Regions from separate parts of the Homo sapiens genome. Here regions 1, 3 and 4 are each linked to region 2. The links come from fine-mapping of genetic effects on plasma protein levels. Region 2 holds a variant in brackets. A gene starts in each other region. All regions are shown on their forward strands.

Region 1 (5,130 bases), not on the chromosome of region 2:
GACTCTATCAATAATTATCTCTGAAATATTGTGACATTTCCATTTTTTCTGAATAAAATAAAATACCTGGTTTGACGTTGGTCACTCCTGGCCCAATACTTTCCACAATACCTGCAGCCTCATGGCCAACGATCACTGGGAAAGCTAGGCCCTCAAATTTAGAATCGATAACAGTGGCATCAGTATGGCACAGAGAGGTAGCAATGATCTACAAGGCAATCACAGACTTTAATTGTGTTTCTGCAACTATATTATTGGGCTGGATGTTACATATAAGATTAGGCTTGATATCATTTTAAAACTTTATAAGACTTCTAGAACTCAATAAAAGAATCACCTTTTGAAAAAAGAACCAATAAAAATATACTGGGTTAGATTATTTTCCTCTTATAATGCATCTTTGTTTTCTACCTTTTGCTGTTGTCAGAAAATCATAAAAGAGATAGGATTGGCAATTATTGCCTCCAGGAGAGGAAAAAATCAAAGGTAATAGGGCTTATTGAAATGAAGTTGAGGTAATACACCTTTTACAGTTGAGAGAACAATATCAAATCAAGGATTGTCTGAATTAATTACCAATGTATACCTATATTCTTCTTTAAGGTTCTGTCAGTGAGAATGTCCCATTCACTCTCATGTACAGACTCTTAATGTGGGGGTCCTCAAGGAAAATATAAGCCTGGTCAGCTTGGGAAAAATGGGGAAATTGTCCAAACTTGCCATCAGTGATCTCACTCCATTCCATGCACTCTCTTCTCCCTGTGACCTACTCCTGTCCCTTCCTCTGGATACCCAGGACCCTTCGGCTGCCTAGGGCAGCACGTCAGGTTTTTTCTTCTGTCTTGTTTTCGATCAAATTGTCTATCTTCCTTTTAATAACACTTTCAAATAATTAGCAATTGGAAAGCAAAAAGAAAACCTAACTAATTCAAATCCAAAGTGAATTCCTTTGTCTGATTCTTAGGGTAAATGATTAATGTTAAGATCAATTAAATTTTAAGCCCATTATTTGAAAATTACTAAAATAATGGATGATTTATTCCTTTTTGGGATAATGCCTGTTTTTGACTGAATCTAAAAATACAGCTTCCCTGTACTAGAAACTCCAAGGCCTCTGAATCATAGCACAGAGGATTGACCTGACAGAAGCCAGGTCTCCACTTGGGGCCCTGTCTGTTCCCACCCAAGGAAAGTCTCCACTTACCTGAATGCGAACTTCATGAGCCTTGGGGGGAGCTACTTCAACCTCTTCAATGCAAAGGGGCTTGCCTGCTTCCCAGGCGATGGCTGCTTTGCATTTAATAACCTGAAAGAGAGAAAGAAAAGGAAGAGGGAGATAGAGATAGAGATTTTGACAGGGTTGGGGGTAGGAGAGAGGAGATCATGAGAAAAAATTAGAATATATTGATACTGTAATTTCATGACAAAGAGTTAAAGAGTTTGTAGCTGGATCTTATAGATATTATTTTAAAGACAAGGGATCTTAAAGAAAAATAAGAAGTTAAATTCTACATTATAGTCATTACATTTTTTATTTCTTGAAAAAAAAACAGGTGTATTAAAGTTTACCTTGATATAATGTCTCAAGTTTTTCCCTCTATAACAGAGAGAATAGATTTATGGAGTTTGAATAAGGTAGATGGCCTATAAAAATCTATTGAGTGAACTGTTTGAAATCACCTCTGAATTACCTGAGTCAGATAATTGCTGGAGAATAGATGTGTTTTACATCTCTGCAACTCGAAGTGTGGTCCTCGGACAAGCATTTATTCACATCACTTGGGAATTTGTTAGAGATGAAAGCCCTGCCTCAAATCCACTAAATCAAAATCTGCATTTGAACAATATCCCCAGAGAATTCATTAAAAGTCTGAGAAATGAGGCTTACATCATTATTAAATTTATCTGTAGGATATAAATTAAATAAAAATTTCATCTAATTGTAAGAATTTGGGTAAAGATGAATGAACAGAAATTAAATATTTAGGATTCTATAACCCCAATTTTTTCTAGCCTCAAATTATATTTTTAATTTCAAATATAAGCAACATTGAAAGAAAGTAGAAAGAAACAAACCTATAATCTTCTGTTCTAACACTACTATGCTTACATTTGGTATACTTTTCCCAAAGTCTTTGACCACATTAATGTATATTTTTCAATAGTTACATAATTTTGAATTATGTTTTTGAATATTATTTATTTTGTTTCAAATGAAGTATATATTAATTAACAGGAAGTTTCAAAATGCCAAGGCCTATCAAGTTTTTAAAGACAAAAAATAGAATAAGATTCATCTGTAAGCTCATCACCCACTTTATGCTTTTGATGCAGATTCTTCGAGTATCCCCAAATAAGATACATTGTCCATAGTATTTTGTAATATACTTTTTCTACTATTAATATACTGTGAACATTTTCCCATATTCTCCTGCAACATTATTTGTAACATATGCATATTATATTTTATGGTTACAGCACAGTTACTTAAATCTCTCTTCTTTTGGCCATTTAAATAATATTAATATTAACTGAACACCCTTCTAATAAACATTTTGGCAATCCACAGTTAATTTCCCTAGAATAAATTCCTGGCATAGGGGTCACTCATATCCTTTTGATCAACTGTAAGTCACTGCTTCCTGAGTTCCTGAAGGAAGCTCCTTTTAGCCAAACATACAAGGACACAGAAAAGCACAAACTGAACAAAGATACAGCTTACTTGCTTACTTTGCCCTTGGTGCCCATTTTTCTTTGGGAAACTGTGTTGGAAGTTTCTTTCTGAGTTAAGAAAGCTTCAAACTCCTACCCAGGGAGTTCCGTGTCCTATAATGAGCTGTCTTTGAATAAATACCATTCATGTTGCTTAATTCTCCAATCACTTCCTTTTCTCCTTTGTTGCTGTAATTCACAGCCCTGCCGGCCTCTTACCACATCATTTGTACTATTGGACTTCAGCTGCAAACCTCATTGCTCCCAGTGAGCTCCAAGATTTTTTAAATTCTTTTTTCTTTTATTGAAAAATATAAAATAATAGAGAAAAGCCCATTAAACATATAAAGATGAATTAACAAATAATTATGAAGTAAAGGAAATTTCTACTCCTCAGAATCGCCCATTTAACTTACCTGTTCTTCTCCTTCACAACCCTGATAATCACTTCCTTGCATATTTAGTGGTTTACTACCTATTTAAGCTTCTCTATCCAATAGTTTAATCTAGCAAAGCCTTTTTATGAATGGAATCATAGTGTATGTATTGTTTCATGTCTTTTTTCTCCCCTCTACTCTATGTGAGAATCATTCACATTGCCTGTGGCTGTAGCTTATTTTCATTACTCTAGAATATTCCAGTGTATGAATTGAACATAATTTATTCATCCATTTTCCTTTTTGCTGTTTTTTTTCCTCTTTGCTTATGATGAATTAGTGGTTACATACAAATTCTTTTCATGTACTTGGTTGCACATATGCTTGAGTTGCCTTAAAGAAAATTCAGAGCTGATATTCAGCCAGTACCCACTATGAAGGCCATGCCAATTATCAAAATATTGAAGTATTTTTATTCAGCTTGGTAAAAAGTCACTATCCCAAATCCCCAAGTTCCCCTTCAACTCTGTTGCAGCCCTGGGGGCCCCTATTTAGTCACTGCTAAGGAGCTACTCTTTTTGTCCCACCTGATGTGTGAGTCCATCAACCAGCCCTGATGGTTCTGGGTCTCTGGCTGTCCCCCTAAAACAGAGTAGTCCCTGGAACCCCAGTAGATAAATACCTAGTGTCCATCTGACCTCCTGTGGCTGTGGCCTCCAGTGCTGTGGGTCAGAACTCCCCTGGAGTCACATGTATATGGCCATTTGTGAGAAATGGAGTTTCCTTTCTGTACTGGTTGTTAAATATTTTTTGACTAGGAGTGGAATTAAAGTCTTCAACTTTAATAGGCAAGGCCAAGGAATTTCACAGAATGGCTTCACCTACCAGCAGCAGTGTATGAGAGTCCTCGTTGCTCCACATCCTCACCCATGCTTGGAATTGGCAGACTTTAAAAATCTTCTTAATCTGGTCGTGTGTAAAGATATCTAATTCTGTTTTTAATTTGTATTGATCTGATTATTAATAAGGATAAGCACCAGTCCTGTACTGGAGTCAGCTCATACTGATTTTGTTGTGCTTATTCTATTAACTACTGAGAGATGTTTAGAAATCATTATGATTACTCTAATTATCATTACACGTTGTATGTGTGTACTGAAGTATCATAGGTACTTCACAAATATGTACAATTCTTTCTGTACATATTAAAATTAAAAATAAAAATGAATAAATAACAATAAAATTATTTTAAATAATAACTAAAAATAAAAAGAAACAAAAATACATCATTATTATGAGTTTGTTAATTTCTGAGAGTACTTTTTTTTACTTTACATATCTTGAAGCTTGATATTACGTGCATGCAAGTATTCTGTGTTCCATGTGTTTTAAGAAATTTAATGACATTTTTACTATCTTTCCCTGGCAGTGTGTTTTCATTATCTACATTATTTCTTTTAATAGTCCCCTAGTATTCCACCATCTCTTAAATATTTCAGTTGTTCTATTAAACTTTTAGAAAGCGTAATTTATACTCGTTTCCACTTTTTCACTAACCACATTTCACTCAACTTGTTTGATTTCCATCTCCTTGTTCTATTGAAACTGTTTTCCCCAATGCAATGCATGAGTTTTTTTTAGTTTGCTCTGATTGGAACATCTACTGTGGCCAACTAACCCCTTATATTTCCTTAAGGTGTGTCTCCAGGTTCCTATCTTGCATCCCCACTCTTTCTATTTGGATATGGTCTTTTCCCTTTTTGAATCTCTGTAGCACTCGTGTTTGCATGACTCTTCAGGCTTATACATAAATAGGCAAATGAAGCAAAGTAAGTTTTGCTTCATTTTGTCTCATGTTCTGTTACTTGTGCCTTTTTTGACAACCTGTTTCCTACCTGTAGCCTCCTTAACTGTAGAGATTGTATTTTATTTACATTTCATATCCTGAAGAGTATACTTCAGAGCCCCGAAAAAATACTAGGTGATTACTAAATGCTGGTCAAATTGAATAATGACCTTGGAAACACAATTGGAATTAACA
Region 2 (5,151 bases):
GAGGCCAAGGTGATGCAGACCTCACCTGCCTGTTGGTCTTTGGAAGCCTCATTTTGTAGGTGACCCGAGGCTCCAACTGTCCTCAGCATCTTCTGTTTGCATTTGTGACAATATCCGTTCTGTGGCCCTTGGGTCTTGGGAAAACATGGCGCAATCATAAATGAGTTAAATGCTATCTGATCATAAGCCAGAGGGCCTGTTTTCATTTTCAAAACTCCGTGTGTCAGTGGCTGTAATGCAATGTCCAGCAATGTCTTGAGCAAGTGACCGGCAGGGGACAGAGGATGCTGTTTACTCAAGATAGCCCCATCACGCAAAAGCAGCTTGCCTAACCGGGTTTGTAAGCGATTGTTACGAGACCACCGTTGCAACAGGGATTGCCCTGGGTGATGGTCCCAGGAAGGGGCTGGTCCCCTCAGGCCAGATTTGGGGCTATCTCCCTCTTTCTGGAGCCCTCTGGGACCCTGGGCCTCTGGCAAAGAGCAGAGAAAAAGCATTGTTGGGAAATCCCACTCAGATGTGGAGTTGTCCTCCTAAGGAAGGGTGCCCTGGGGAGAAGGGCTTCATGCTACCCTGAGAGGAGACAGCCTCCTGTGTCAGAGGAGGCTGGAGGGGTGGCTAGGGACCTGCAGAGGCGGAGGATGGTGTGGTATGGTTGCTGAGCAAGAACATGGTGACTCGGGGTTTTGAAAGGCTTGGTCTGGGTAATGGTTCTGAGTTTGGGAGTGGTCATTGTTTCTCCAGCACCAAAATTATGGTGGGTGGGTGATCACATGCATATGGCTGACCCCTATGGGTATTTTCCTGAAGGTCAAACTATTAAATCCTTTATCCTTTCACCCCTTCCCTCTTGGCGAAGATCTGAGTTACAACCACCGTCACCACCACCACCACCACCACCACCATCACCATCACCATCATCACCACCACCATATCCACCTCTTTATCTGAACAGCTTCTTAAGATTTAAAAGCTCTTTCACATGGTTTCTCAATTAATCCTCACAACAACTCCAAGAGATAAGCATCACGACACCCATTTTATACCTGGTGAAATCGAGACTCAGAGACGTTAAATGTCTGACGCAAGACTCTTGGTCAGTGTGTCCCATAGAAATATAAAGTGGGCCAGAAATGAGAGCGGCATACATAATTTGACATTTTCTGGTAGTCATAATTAAAAAGTAAAATTAATTTCAATAATATATTTTAACCTAATAGATCAAAATTGTTATCATTTCAATATGCAATCAATGTAAAAATTATTGAACAATTTTACGTACTTTTTCATATAAAGTCTTTGAAGTCTGGGGTATATTTTGTACTTATAGTACATCTCAATCTGGACTAGTCAATTTTAAGTGCTCAGCAGCCATAGGTGGCTAGTGGCTGCTGTGTTGGAAGACACAATTCTAGATTTTTTTTTTATTATTATACTTTTAAGTTCTAGGGTACATGTGCACAAGGTGCAGGTTTGTTACTTATGTATACATGTGCCATGTTGGTGTGCTGCACCCATTAACTCATCATTTACATTAGGTATATCTCCTAATGCTATCCCTCCCCCCTCCCCCCACCCCACGACATGCCCTGGTGTGTAATGTTCCCCACCCTGTGTCCAAGTGTTCTCATTGTTCAGTTCCCACCTATGAGTGAGAACATGTGGTGTTTGGTTTTCTGTCCTTGTGATAGTTTGCTCAGAATGATGGTTTCCAGCTTCATCCATGTCCCTACAAAGGACATGAACTCATCCTTTTTTATGGCTGCATAGTATTCCATGGTGTATATGTGCCACATTTTCTTAATCCAGTCTATCATTGATGGACATTTGGGTTGGTTCCAAGTCTTTGCTATTGTGAATAGTGCCTCAATAAACATACATGTGCATGTGTCTTTATAGTAGCATGATTTATAATCCTTTGGGTATATACCCAGTAATGGGATCGCTGGGTCAAATGGTATTTCTAGTTCTAGATCCTTGAGGAATCACCACACTGTCTTCCACAATGGCTGAACTAGTTTACACTCCCACCAACGGTGTAAAAGCATTCCTACACAATTCTAGATATTTTTGTCCTTCCTCAAAGCTTCTCTGCTCTTCCATAATATGCATCATATTTTCTCCATTTCTAAAAGGGGGTGTTTGGGCCAAGGAGTTTCCAAGGTCTTTTTCAGTTCTAAGGTTTTCTGATTCCAGAGCAAAGCCAGAATTCTGCCCAGGCTCCGCTTAGCCCCATGACACAGAGGGTCCCAGACATATGGAGAAAGAACTGTGAAAACGTCTTCACACTAGAAGTTTGTGTTTCTTTTCCTATGGTCTACAGGGGCAAACAGAGACAGATACACAGACATGGACAGGAGGACTCCTAGGCTCCCAGATACAGTTGCATGACCCACAGGAACAAAGACACAGACACAGCGCCCAGGGGAGTGTTCTGAGCATGTTCTTTGTGTTCTTGCATGTGTAACCCTGATGTTGAGGGGAGTCGTCCTGCCCCTTAAGGGCCAGATGAAGTTGCCACAGACACCCCAAACCCCAACTCCAATCCATCTCCTCCATTTGTTTCTTTTATATGTAGATATGCACGTGTGTGTGTGCACACAAGTCACCCTCTATGTGTGGATATTGGGTCACTGCAGAAGAAGTGTTTCTGGTCCGGGCACGGTGGCTCACGCCTGCAATCCCAGTACTTTGAGAGGCCCAGGTGGGTGGGTCACGAGGTCAGGAGATCGAGACCATCCTGGCTAACACGGTGAAACCCGTCTCTACTAAAAATACAAAAAATTAGCCGGGCACGGTGGTGGGCGCCTGTAGTCCCAGCTACTCGGGAGGCTGAGGCAGAAGAATGGTGTGGACCTGGGAGGCAGAGCTTGCAGTGAACTGAGATAGCACCATTGTACTCCAGCTCAGGCGACAGAGTGAGACTCCGTCTCAAAGAAGAAAAAAAAAAAAAAAAGTGTTTCTGACCATGGGCTGTTGTTAAGCAAAGTTTGACTGTCCCAGCTCAAGAGACCTCATGGCCTCTGGCCAGCCACCTCTGTGACTGTCTCCTCAGCCACTTTGATACTGCCTCCATTTCTCCAACTGTCAAATGATGTTTTTGTTCCTCACAGCCAATCTCGCAAATCCTGCATTTCTCTCTCTCTCTCTTTTTTTTTTTTTTTTTTGAGATGGAGTCTCGCCATGTCACCCAGGCAGGAGTGCAGTGGC[G/A]CAATCTTGGCTCACTGCGGCCTCTGCCTCCTGGGTTCAAGCGACTCTCCTGCCTCAGCCTCCCAAGTAGCTGGGATTACACGTGCCTGCCACTATGCCCGGCTAATTTTTTGTTTTTAGTAGAGACTGGGTTTCACCATGTTGGCCAGGCTGATCTCAGGTGATCCGCCCACCTCAGCCTCCCGAAGTGCTAGGCTTACAGGCATGAGCCACCACACCTGGCCCAAACCCTTCATTTCTTTGCTCTTGACACTACAGAGCTCTCCCAGGATTTTTTTTTTTTTCCTTCCACGTGCAACCTCATAGATCTTTCTTTGGTCTCTGTATGTCACAAATCCCCAGGAACTTCAAACTTTAGGAGATGCTCCTGAAGATTTTCTGGGCTTTTTCCTTTCCCTCCCACTGCACAGCTCCTCCCTGATTACTGTAGACCCTCCAGGTCCCTCCCAGTCTCATCTTGCCTCCTGAGTAGCTATCAAGGGATTTATAATCACTTCAGAGTACCTTGCCAAAGGTCATGCAACTCTGCCCTGGTCTGCTCTGGTCTTCCTCCCCTCTCTTCAAGGCTTCCTGGTCTGGGTCTGTGCCCGGCGGCCAGTTCTCCATCAGCAGGGTAGAGCTGTGTGTGGAGTAGGTTCCTCCCTGGGTAACAGGTAATGTGGACAGATAGAAGGCCAGGATCTGGATGCAAAGGGCAGAGTGACTGGTGGTGAGACACTGTGCTGTAGAGTGGTGGGAGGGGCTGGTCCGAGCCTTTCGCCCATTCCACCCCAAGGGCAGCGGCAACTCATGCTATCTTCAGGGCAGGCTGTTAATTAATTATGAGGGACTGTGGCCTTAGAAAGAAGGGTGCTGGGTCTGAGTGTCTGGACACTTTCTCCAGTTCCCTTGCACCCATCTAAGTGAGGGAGCCTGGCTCAGCCACTTCAGAGTCATTGGTCACCCTGATTAGCTCACCCTGGATGGAGGATGTTCCCTGAGTGTCTCTTCTTGGCCCCTGGAGGCATTGCCTAACACCATGTTTGCCAAATGATCCACATGGTCCAGTGTTTTGAAATGAAGTTTTTAAAGAGAAGGCAAAGGCAATTTTTTTGGAGGGGGTGGGTGGTTGTTTTGTTTTCTTTGTTTTCCCCATAGAGCAGAATTTCTTTGCATCATGAGAGAGTTGTGTGATCTCAGGTAGATAAATCTGTCCTAACTCAGAAAGGAGAAGTGTGACTAGACTCTCACCGGCCTTCAGGAGACGTCAGTTCTCTTCCCAAAGTAATTGCATGATGGTGAAAGTGGTTTCTGAAGCTCAGTTTATGAAGTGGAGAGGGCGAGGGAAGAGGCTACTGGGTCCTGAATGGTGAGGACTTGTAAAAGGGCAGCGGCTAATAGAATAAATGCTTCAACCAGCATTAGGATTAGGGGTGGGTGCACACAGTGGATGCTGGCGTTAGGGTGGGTTGTTCTTGGGGGTGTAGGGAGTGGGAGAGTGTTACATGGGGCAATGGTATTACACAGTGGTGTTCAGGTGGGACTTGGGGTGTATGTGTGTTTTGTTTGGGGTGTAGGATTAGGATGTGAATAGGGTATTAAGAGTGCATTCAGGCCAGGTGTGGTGGCATAGCCTGTAATTCCAGCACTTTGGGAGGCCGAGGCAGGCAGATTGCTTGAGTCCAGAAGTTCGAGACCAGCCTAAGCAACATGGCAAAACCCCATGTCTACAAAAAAAAAAAAAAAAAAAAAAAAATAGCTGTGCGTGGTGGCATGCACCTGTGGTTCCAGCTAAGGTGGGAGGATTGCTTGAGCCTGGGGAGGTAGAGGCTGTGGTGAGATGTGATCATGTCACTGCACTCCAACCTGGGTAACAGAGTGAGACCCTGTCTCAAGAAAAAAAAAAAAAGTGCATTCAGCAGCAAGCAATAGAAAACCCAGCCCCCAGAAGCTTAAATAATT
Region 3 (5,142 bases), not on the chromosome of region 2:
TGGTGGGCGCCTGTAATCCCAGCTACTCAGGTGGCTGAGGCAGGGAGAATTGCTTGAACCTGGGAGGCAAAGGTTGCAGTGAGCCGAGATTGCTCCACTGCAATCCAGCCTGGGTGACAGAGCAAGACTCCATCTCAGAAAAAATACAAAAATTAGGGGGGCATGGTGGCGCACACCTGTAATCCCAGCTACTCAGGAGGCTGAGGCAAGAGAATCGCTTGGACCCAGAAGGCAGAGGTTGCAGTGAGCCAAAATCATGCCACTGCACTCCAACCTGGGCAACAGAGCAAGACTCTGTCTCAAAAAAAAAAAAAAAAAAAAAAGAGAAAGTGCTTGCACATTGGAGCTTGCCAACTACTGCTGCTCTAGATCTATGGGGCCACTATAAGAATAGAGCTCAAGCTAGCCTGCTAGAAAGGCCACATAGATGAGAACTAAGGCATGCACCCCAACAGAAAGCCTGCTAATCAGCAGACATGTGAGCAAGGCCCATCCTAAATTAACCATTTACCCCAGATGAGACCTAAGAAGAACCACCCAGCTTAACTCAGCCCAAATTGCCAACCCAAAGAATTGTGAACTAATAAACCGTTGTTGCTTAAAGTCACTAAACTTTGGGGTAGTTTGTTATGCAGCAAAAGCTAACTGATACAGTCCCTTCCAACTCTGAAATATTTTTAGTATGACTTACCTCCATTTTTTAAGGGTGGGAGCTCAGCTGTCTTCAACTCAAAGTCACTATTAGTAGGATAGCCAACAAAGTGCTTCTTCAGGGTCCATGTCTTAGTACGAACCATCCTGAAGCTCCTAGAACACAGTAAATATGTAGTCAACTGCCATGAAGTGACTGCATTCTAACAGTTCTCTAGCCGTCAAACTGAGACCAGACAGCACAATTACAATATCCTCAAATCCCATCATTATCATATCATGCCAACCACATTCATTTAACATTTACTATGTTTCTGGTGCTGTGCTAAGCACTTCATATAGATTACCTCATTTTATCCTTATAACTTCCCTATAAGATAGACATTAGTATCATTGCCAGTGTACGGATGAGGAAACTGAGGTTTAAAGAAATCTTCAAGACAAGGAAAAAATATAAAACAACAAAGAAATTCTTCCCAGCCACTGCTAGGCTAGAGTTTCTCTACGGCACTGAACAGTTACCGGAAGTGCGAATATTCCATTCCGTTTCTCATCTCACATGGAGTGAATTCTAAGAAAAAGCATCAAACACAAAGAACCCAATAGATAGAAGTCCATGCACCTCTTTCAGATGGAAACAGCCACGCATTTCAAGGCAGTCTCAGAACTCCTGAAAACCACCGGAGGGCGCCGCTGCTCCGCCCCATTTTCAGGTGCGTTTTTTTTTTTTTTAAATACTTTTTTTTCTCTCTTTTCTTGTAGAGAGGAGCCTCACTGTGTTGCCTAGGCGATCCGCCCGCCTCGGTCTCCCAAAGTGCTGGGATTACAGGTGTGAACCACTTGCACTCAGCCATCGGGTGCGAATTTTCTTTGGCCCAGTAGGGATTTGAGTTTAAACTCCACACCAAACCGATTTTGAGCTGAAACGCTGCACCAAAGCAAGGGAAGATGATGAAGGCTGCCCCGAGCTGGGGGTTCAGGATGTTCTGCTTGGACTGAACTCTGCCGAATCACTTGGGACCTGCGCCTTCCCGCGGGTGCATCCGCTACAAACAATCCAGTTACGAAACCATTTGGAGCTGCCAGTGATCTCCCCAGCTCCCCTACCGGTGCCGCGGGAGGGGACACGGTGACCTGGAGGGAGCACTCCCGCATTGCGAGGGAGCCAGGGGGGCGGTCTGATCTGCAGCCCGGGGTTGTTCCTTCTTTTCTTTTTTTAAAATTAAGACTTTTTTTGTGACGGAGTCTCGCTCTGTCGCCCAGGCTGAAGTGCAATGGCGCGATCTCAGCTCACTGCAACCTCCGTCTCCCGGGTTCAAGCGGTTCTCCTGTCTCAGCCTCCTGAGTAGCTGGGATTACAGGCGCCCGCCACCACGCCCAGCTAATTTTTGTACTTTTAGTAGAGACGGGGTTTCCCCATGTTGGCCAGACTGGTCTAGAACTCCTGAGCTCAAATGATTCGCCCGCCTCGACCTTCCATAGTGCTGGGATTACAGGCGTGAGCCACCGCGCCAGGCCCTACGTATCATTTTTACGGTGAGACATTTGCAGTTTACTCTGTTATTTCGAAATACACATTATTGGCTCTAGTCACTCTGCTGTGCAACAGATCTCAGAACCTACTCCTCTCGTCTCTGAACTTCGTACCCTTTGGCCAACAAGCCCCCATTCCCCCCCGAACCCGCTCCCAGCCTCTGGCAACCATCATTCTAGTCGTTATTTCTATGAGTTCAACTTCTTTAGAGTTCACACATCTTTGTCCCTTTCCCCAAAAAAGCAACCGCTGGGCTTCCAAACTCGCTACAAGTCCAGAAGCCCTCCTGGAAAGGGTCTGGCCGCAGAGGGGCCAGGTCCCGGGAAAGTCTCGCCCGCCCGAGGAGGGGGCCTGGCGCGGCGCCCGGCCTTTGCCCGCTCGCCCTTTGCTCCCACCCTCGCCTCCCGCCGCCCGCCGCCCGCTTGCCCATTCCCGAATCCCCACCCCGATCTTTCTTCTTCTACCCTCCCCCAGTTGTGCAGTCCAGCAAGTTCCCTGGCCAGCCCCCTCCCGGGTGCAGGAAGCTACCGGGTGTCCCGGGTTGTAACCAAGCTTTCCTATTCCCTCCGGCGCGCGGCTCCAAGCTCTCCAAGGAACTGCGGGGGCGGGAGGCGTCGGGACGTCGGCTCCCAAGATCCTCCGAGTGCAAGACCCAGCGGTCATTTCGACGTAAGGGGAGGAGGTCTAAGAGCAAACCTCCTCCACTGGGGCGTCTAGAAACTTGGCAGGAAGAAAGCAAGGGGGTTAGAGGAGGGAGAAAAGGGAAGGAAAGAAAGCAGGAGGTCTACTTACAGGAGCCCGAAGGTTCCACTGCCTGGGGAAGGCGGCTGGGACTGCGCAGCCGGGCGCCCGGGGTCCGACTTATGACAGGTCCCAAGAGAGGGTGGGGCCACCCCAGGGCGGGGCTGCTTCTTTAGGGTGAGAGCCCGGCCCCGAAAGGGTCACAGGAGGAAAACCAGGGTCCGGGAAATCTGAGTGCGTTTGTGTGTGTGTGTGCGCGTATCTCTGTGTGCCTATGTGCATGTGCGCGCGCGTATGTGTGCATGTGTGCGTGTGTGTGCGTGCGCGCCCGCGCGCCCGTGTGTGTGCGTGTAGGGGGTTAGGGACTCCTGATAGGAAAATTCCTAACAGAGCTTTGTCCAGCTGACACTGGACCTCCGCCTGGGGTCCTAAGTTGGAGCCCGGCGGAAATATGCCCCGTGGGGGAACCAACCGTGGCATCTGCCAAGCAGGCCGGAAGGGTCCAAAGGCAGGGCCTGGGGCGGCCGCAGCCCTAATAAGCCCCCGGTGCTGGCTCCGATCCCTGGGCTCCCCGTCAGCCCTGCCGCTTGCCCGCAGTGCAAGCTTTCGCCCAGGGCTGCGGTGCAGACACCCTGCCTGTCTGTCCCCAGTCCGCCTGCTGAACACCTACTCGCCTTCCACCAGCCAATTCAAGGTCACCTCTGTGAACCCTTGCCAGACTCCCCCAGGCAGGAGTGAGCACTCTTGCCACTGAGGCACCCCACCCATCACACCCTAGCAAACATCAGGCCTTGACCTGGCTTCTGCAAGGAGAGGTGGTCTCAGGCAGGGGTTGAACGTGAAGCTAAGTCGTTGGTATTAGACGACTGCAGGTTCGAAGCCTGCACCTGCCACTTACTAGTGGTGTAGCTTTCAAAGACTTACTTACCTTCTCCTTGCCTCACTCAGTTCAGCCATCTGCAAGATGGGGATAAGAAGAATGCCTAACTTCCAGTCATTGTGAAGATTCAATGTCTTTAATTTATTTATTTAATTTTAATTATTTTGAGGTCTTGCTCTGTCACCCAGGCTGGAGTGCAATGGTGGGCATCATAGCTCATTGCAGCCTTGAACTCCTGGACTCAGGTGATCCTCCTTCAGCCTCCCTAGAAGCTGGGATTACAGGCCCACCACCACACCTGGCTCAATGTCTCTCCTTGTAAGGATACCCGCCATATTGGATTAGAGCCCCACTTGTCAGCCTCCGTTTAACTTAAACACGTCTTTGAAGGCCTTGTCTTCAAATACTGTCAAATGGATTAGGGCTCACTAATATGGCCTCATGTAACCTTAATTACCTCTTTAAAGGCCCTATCTACAAATACAGTTACATTCTGAGTACTGGGACTTGGGGATTTTAACACATGAAATTGGGGAAGACACAGTTCAGCCCATAACAGAGTGTGTGGACCAAGCGTGGTGGACGCATGCCACAGGATATACACAGCATCAGAAGCACTGGGTTCCATGTACATAAAGCAACTTGGATGGACCCTAAAAACACAATGCCGAGAGTTGAATTCTTCACACTAATCAGAGTTGGTGGCACTTTATCCCCACTGGTCTGCCAAATTCTTTCTTTCTCACTCTCTCCCTTCTCATTAATTTATGTAACTTAATATAAAACAAAACTCCATTCCCAGGCTGGGTGCTGTGGCTCATGCCTGTAATCCTAGCACTTTTGGAGTCTGAGACAAAAGGACCACTTGAGGCCAAGCATTCAAGACTTGCGTGGGCAACATAGCTTTAACCTGGGAGGTGGAGGCTGCAGCGAGCTGCGATCGTGGCACTGCACTCTAGACTGGGTGTCTAAGTGAGATCCCGTCTCAAAAGAAAACCAAAAAAACTCAATTTCCTGCTTTTCTCCTCCTACTATAGGTAACTACTGTGATGTATTTGATTTGCATACAGTTTTTTTTTCCATGTTCTTACATAATGTGCACTGTGGTCATATACATTTAATTTATAGAAACGGTATTGGGTTACATATCGCATTCTGCTTCTCTCTTTTTTTTTTCTTTTAAGATAACTTGTTACAGAATCACTGTTTCTTTTGGATATTAGAAGTGTTAATAAAATTGCAGGCATAAAAAGTCTTTGCAAAGTAAGAATAAGAGAAAAAAGTGCCAGAAACACAGAGTGGCTCACATATTTACTCACTTGTCCTTAAATTGAAG
Region 4 (5,144 bases), not on the chromosome of region 2:
AGGGCTCCATGGGAAGGGGTGGGACCGGAATTTCGACGCCTTGGGATAGGAAGAGGAGGGCTGAGGTAATGAAAACAATTTTTTTTTATTTTTATTTTTTGAGACATGGTCTCGCTCTGTCACCCAGGCTGGAATGCAGCGGCGCGATCTCGGCTCGCTGCAGCCTCGACCTCCCAGGCTCAGGTGATTCTCCCGCCTCAGCCTCCCAGGTAGTTGGGACTACAAGCGTGCATAACTCCGCCAGGATAATTTTTTGTATTTATTGTAGAGACGGGGTTTCGCCATGTTGCCCAGGCTGATCTTGAACTCCTGACCTCAGGTGATCATCCCGCCTCAGCCTCTCACAGTGCTGGGATTACAGGCGTGAGCCACCGCACCTGGCTAATAGCTATTTATTGAAAGTACTGTGATAAGCATTTTAGATTCATTGTATCATTTTAAATTTACAGGGCAACTCATTGAGGTTAAAATCATTCTATCTCCTTTAGAAACTTCAAAACTGATCTTAGTTCAAGAAAGAAGTTACTATTCAGTGATCACCGAGGCTCTAACAAGTGGAGCCTAGATTCGAAACCAAACCCTGTGACTTCAACACCCAAACATTTACGTTCTTACGTTTTACTGTACAGCCTTCCTCCTGGATAAATCAGATTAAAATTTTGAAGACATGTATATAGCTTGTCAGGGTAGTACAGTTATTAATTCTGTGGTTACCACATTCTTTTATATCTCAAGACTCCCAGCCCCAGGATCTAAGTCATAGCTCTTGATTATGGCCCACCCCCAGTAGGGAGCTGAACTTACTACTTCTGATATGAAAGAAGCCAGAGTAGTTGTTTCTTCCAAGTCACTCACATCTGAGATGGCCCTCAAACCCTCCTTGGTGGTCTCCGGCTGAGAGATGTTTGCGTCTTTCTGATCTTGGTAATACTGGATCAACTGCTGAACCCCAGACCTTAATGCAGGTTTAAGTGCAGCACTGATCGCTAGACCCATAGGCCCCCCTGACATCCCAGCCATGGTCATCAGAAGGTCATATCCCAGATCTATGGCCCCATCTCGGCCTCGTTCCCTGGCCTTGCCCAGGCAGTTTTGAGTAGCATAATACAAAGCTGTGCCCAGGTTGTAGAAGGTTCCCACTCCTGGCAGCAGCTGGACTACATTGTGCACAGCTTGCTCCTTCTCATTCTCACAGTCCTCTGTCGGGAGGGAGCGCCCGACCCTTCCTGTGCTTTGCTGCTCCCTGGCTAACAGCTGCAGAGCAGAGGCCAGGGCTTCCACTGACACGTTCCTCTCTGTGCTTCTGCCTTTCTGGAGCCCTCGAAGATGCTGGATGAGGACCTGTGTAGCATTCACACCACCCTGGCGGTAGAGCTGTAGCTGTAGAGCCCAAACATCAGCCTGACAACCAGCTTCCTCCAGGGCATTCCTTAGAGCCAGGCTTACCAAGAACTTGGGTAGAGGGGCCATGTGGCTGAAACCAGGCAGTGACTTTGGGTGCAGAAATTGGCAGGACAAGGGGTCTGAGGAGGGTGTCTGGGATTCCAAGGACAAGGGAAAGTGCATCAAGACATTTGTCTGCTTTCCATATGAAGTGGCATCCACAGGGTGCAGCAGGAGGTAGCAAAGTAGCAGCTCAACTGGTATCATGATGAGTCTGAGGCCACGCATGTCTGGAGCAGAGTACCCTAGAAAGGGGAGAAATCCGAAACATACAAACCATTTCCCTAAGGGCGATGGTGAGCCCAAGACTCAGTTAGGGGGACACCTCATACATCACCTGCTTCCAAGCTTTTGTACTTTCTTTTTAGAGACAGGGTCTTGCTCTGTTGCCCAGACTAGAGTGCAGTGATGGGATCACAAATCACTGCTGCCTTGAATTCCTGGGCTCGAGGGATCCTCCTGCCTCAGCCTCCCAAGCAGCTGGGACTACAGGTGCGTGACACCATGCCCAGCTAATTTTTAAATTTTTTGTAGAGACGTGGTTTTGCCATCTGGCCCAGCCTAGTTCTGAACTTTGGGCTCAAGTGATCCTTCCACCTCCGCCTCCCAAAGTGATAGGCTTCCAGATGTGAGCCACCGCGCCTGGCCCCAAGCTTCTGTTCTTTTTAGGTAAAGGCCTAGGAAATAGGAAATGCACCCCAGTTGCTCCCACTTGGTCTCCCCCATTTACAGGTCACCAGGGACTTCTGTTTTATTTCCACCCATATATAGGGACCCCAAATTACCACACAGTCCAGTCATTGAGAAGTGAGACTGCCTTGGTAGGTTTGATCGCTTCCTGATCCTGTTCTGCCTAGTTCTGTGTCCCATGAGGAAAGGAGATATTTGCTTTCCCCTATGATCAGTGAAGGATGTAATCTCTGCAAATATTTGCCCATTTATACTGGCTGCTCAAACCTTGTGCCCCTTGTCACACACTCAACCTCTATGCCTACAGTCCTGTTCTTTGGCATTTCCTGTATGTCCCTGCCACATTCCCACTCTAAGCTCATGATAGGAGCCAGGGAAATTCAGAATTAGGAAAGATGAGATGTTTGTGATACTCTCATTTCTCTTCATTTTAAAAATTAAATTAGCGGCTGAGCATGGTGGCTCACGCCTGTAATCCCAGCACTTTGGGAGGCCAAGGCGGGCGGATCACAAGGTCAGGAGTTCGAGACCAGCCTGGCCAATATGGTGAAACCCTGTCTCTACTAAAAAAAAAAAAATATATATATATATATATATATATATACACCCAGGCGTGGTGGTGGGCGTCTGTAGTCCCAGCTACTCAGGAGGCTGAGGCAGGAGAATTGCTTGAACCCGGGAGGTGGAGGTTGCAGTAAGCCAAGATCGCACTACTGCACTCCAGCCTGGGTGACAGAGTGAGACTCCGTCTTAAAAAAAAAAAAGGAGGGGAGCTGACACCTACTAAGTGGAGAGGGGCAAGGCTAACACTGGTCACATATGTGTTTAAGGGAAGAGGTGAAATAAAGAGCATTCATCTGTCCTAAGTGGTCTCCAACATTTCTAACTACTTACTGTGTGCCATCCTTGAATACAGTCCTGGGAAAGGAGACTCATTACTTATGTGATATTGAATAGCTGAAATGAGCCGGGATCAATTCCTGGATCATTTTCCTCACAAAGCACTTCAGAATAGCTGTGGAACATTTGATAGATTATATTGTCACTGTCCATGGACAATTTAAATGATCTTGAGAGCTTCTTCAACTTTTTGCCTAATTCTTCAATATGCTCCCAAGACTCATACCTGCAGTTCTTGGTGATGTGGACACCCAAAACTTTGAACTGTGACACCAAGCATCATGGGAGATGGTTTCTCAGCAAACTCAATCACCATCTGAGCTACCTGGTAGGCCAGCTACCCCAGTGGGTATATTTGCCACCATCCATACATTTCCCAGGATGGGCAGCTGGGTGCTGGGTTTATTCACACTTCCCTAAGGGACTACTAGATTCGTCACAATGATGTTGGTATTGCCTTCCTCCCCATTGAACTTTTTGACTCTCACGGATGAGGGTTTCAGTGGTATCCTTTCCTCGCATCTGAAACTGCAGAACATGGGCCTCAGTTGGGCAGCCCACCTCCTCCAAGGGCACCCTCAGAGCTAAGTTGGACAGGTACTCAGGCAGAGGGGCTAGGGAGGGGGCTGTGTGTAAGAGATCTTGGCAGATCCTGGGATCTGGGAGAGGAATCTGGCTCTCCATGTTCTCCAAATAATGGAGAGCATGTTTGATGGATGCCCAGTCTCTGTTAAAGATGGCTGGAGGGTCAGAGTCTCATTCTGAGCATTTCTTGGAAAGGCAGACACCAGGGACAGCAGGACACAGCAAAGCAGCAGCACAGCTTGGACCATGGGGGGACAGCAGAGCAGCCCTGCTGGAAGGAAGCAGTGCTCAGGTTGGGAAGTGGAGAAAGGCTCAGGACAAAGAGACACCAAGACTGGCCAGAGCTAGAAAGTGTCTTAGCTCTTGGAAACTTCGGTTGCCCTGAGCACACCTCATCTTCACTCTTAAAGGATGTGGGTGATCCTCCTATTTTGAGGAGAAACAAGTCAGAGGAAAAAAACAGTCCAAACATCTCATTTGCTTTGGTATCTTCATGACCTGAATTACTATTATTGTTGTTGTTGCTGTTTTTAATCTGCCCTTTCCCAGAATCACAAGGAAACCAGAAAGTTGATGGCTTCCAAAACAGTGAAGGACAAAACATTTGCAAATATTTATGCATCTCTTCCCAGCCCAGACTTTGTCCTTCTCACCTTTGACCCATACTGACAAACTGACCTTTCCCCTTTTAGGCCCTGCAGTCCTGTCCCATATCTTTTTTTTTTTTTCTTTTTCTTTTTCTTTTCCTTTTTTTTTCTGGAGACACAGTCTCACTCTGTTGCCCAGGGTAGAGTGCAGTGGCACGATCACAGCTCACTGCAACCTCCACATCCCGGGTTCAAGCGATTCTTGTGTCTCAGTCTCCCTAGTAGTTGGGATTACAGGCACGCACCACCATGCCTGGCAAATTTTTGTTTTGTTTTGTTTTCTGGAGACAGTCTCACTCTGTTGCTCAGGCTGGAATGCAATGGCGTGATCTTGGCTCACTGCAACCTCCACTTCCCAGGTTCAAGAGATTCTCTTGCCTCAGCCTCCCGAGTAGCTGGGACTACAGGTGTGCGCCACCACGCCTAGCTAATGTTTTTGTATTTTTAGTAGAGATGGAGTTTCACCATGTCAGTCAGGCTGGTCTCAAACTCCTGACCTCGAATGATCTGCCTGCCTCGGCCTCCCAAAGTGTTGGGATTACAGGCGTGAGCCACGGCACCCAGTGACATATCTTTTCTATCCTAAGGTTTTACCCTAAACCTATATTTGAGCTGAGGAAAAGGTCCTCCGTATCTTCTTGAGGGGAGAAAGGGTAAGGCAGAATAGCTGGTGATCTCTGGGACCCCTAAACCATTTTTCTTTTCTTTTTTTTTCTGAGACGGAGTTTCGCTCTTGTTGACCAGGCTGGAGTGCAATGGCGCGATCTCAGCTCACTGCAACCTCCGCCTCCCAGGTTCAAGTGATTCTCCTGCCTCAGCCTCCCAAGTAGCTGGGATTACAGGCGTGTGCCACCATTCCCGGCTAATTTTGTATTTTTG

Which allele goes with the higher level. Positions count from the first base shown, and alleles are read on the strand shown. Strength reflects both the effect of a copy and how common the allele is.
With allele A in place of G in region 2, the plasma level of the protein whose gene starts at base 2,823 in region 1 is lower (weak association).
In carriers of allele A in region 2, the plasma level of the protein whose gene starts at base 3,022 in region 3 tends to be lower than with G alone (weak association).
As copies of A replace G in region 2, the plasma level of the protein whose gene starts at base 2,356 in region 4 goes up (weak association).

The links. A credible set is the group of variants that fine-mapping cannot tell apart. PIP is the chance, under the fine-mapping model, that this variant and not a neighbour inherited with it causes the effect. Protein levels are from antibody-based Olink assays in UK Biobank. Linkage for the fine-mapping came from a reference panel and not from the study's own genotypes, which makes the PIPs less certain.
Region 1: ADH4 starts here. The variant in region 2 is the best candidate, but not a certain one, in a credible set for the plasma level of the ADH4 protein (UK Biobank, PIP 0.72).
Region 3: PTGR1 starts here. The variant in region 2 is the best candidate, but not a certain one, in a credible set for the plasma level of the PTGR1 protein (UK Biobank, PIP 0.90).
Region 4: it holds the start of APOF, and the variant in region 2 is the best candidate, but not a certain one, in a credible set for the plasma level of the APOF protein (UK Biobank, PIP 0.86).

The regions. Positions count from the first base shown.
Region 1 is chr4:99,141,475-99,146,604 of GRCh38, forward strand. ADH4 (alcohol dehydrogenase 4 (class II), pi polypeptide) reads right to left here and starts at 2,823. Exons shown (of 9, transcript NM_000670.5): 1 at 2,731-2,823; 2 at 1,205-1,306; 3 at 67-208. The coding sequence starts at 2,748. The region is part of intron 2 of LOC100507053 (a long non-coding RNA gene); the gene reads left to right. RefSeq lists a promoter at 2,795-3,117.
Region 2 is chr8:125,491,242-125,496,392 of GRCh38, forward strand. All of the region lies in intron 2 of TRIB1AL (TRIB1 associated lncRNA), which reads left to right. Among named protein-coding and RNA genes, the nearest start is that of LINC02964, 26 kb to the right of the region's middle. The variant G/A (reference allele first, on the strand shown) is at 3,211.
Region 3 is chr9:111,596,626-111,601,767 of GRCh38, forward strand. PTGR1 (prostaglandin reductase 1) reads right to left here and starts at 3,022. Exons shown (of 10, transcript NM_001146108.2): 1 at 2,978-3,022; 2 at 692-807. The coding sequence starts at 797. RefSeq lists an enhancer at 2,873-3,445.
Region 4 is chr12:56,360,502-56,365,645 of GRCh38, forward strand. It overlaps APOF (apolipoprotein F), which reads right to left and starts at 2,356. Exons shown (of 2, transcript NM_001638.4): 1 at 2,229-2,356; 2 at 67-1,688. The coding sequence starts at 2,244. The coding sequence ends at 724. RefSeq lists an enhancer at 1-88.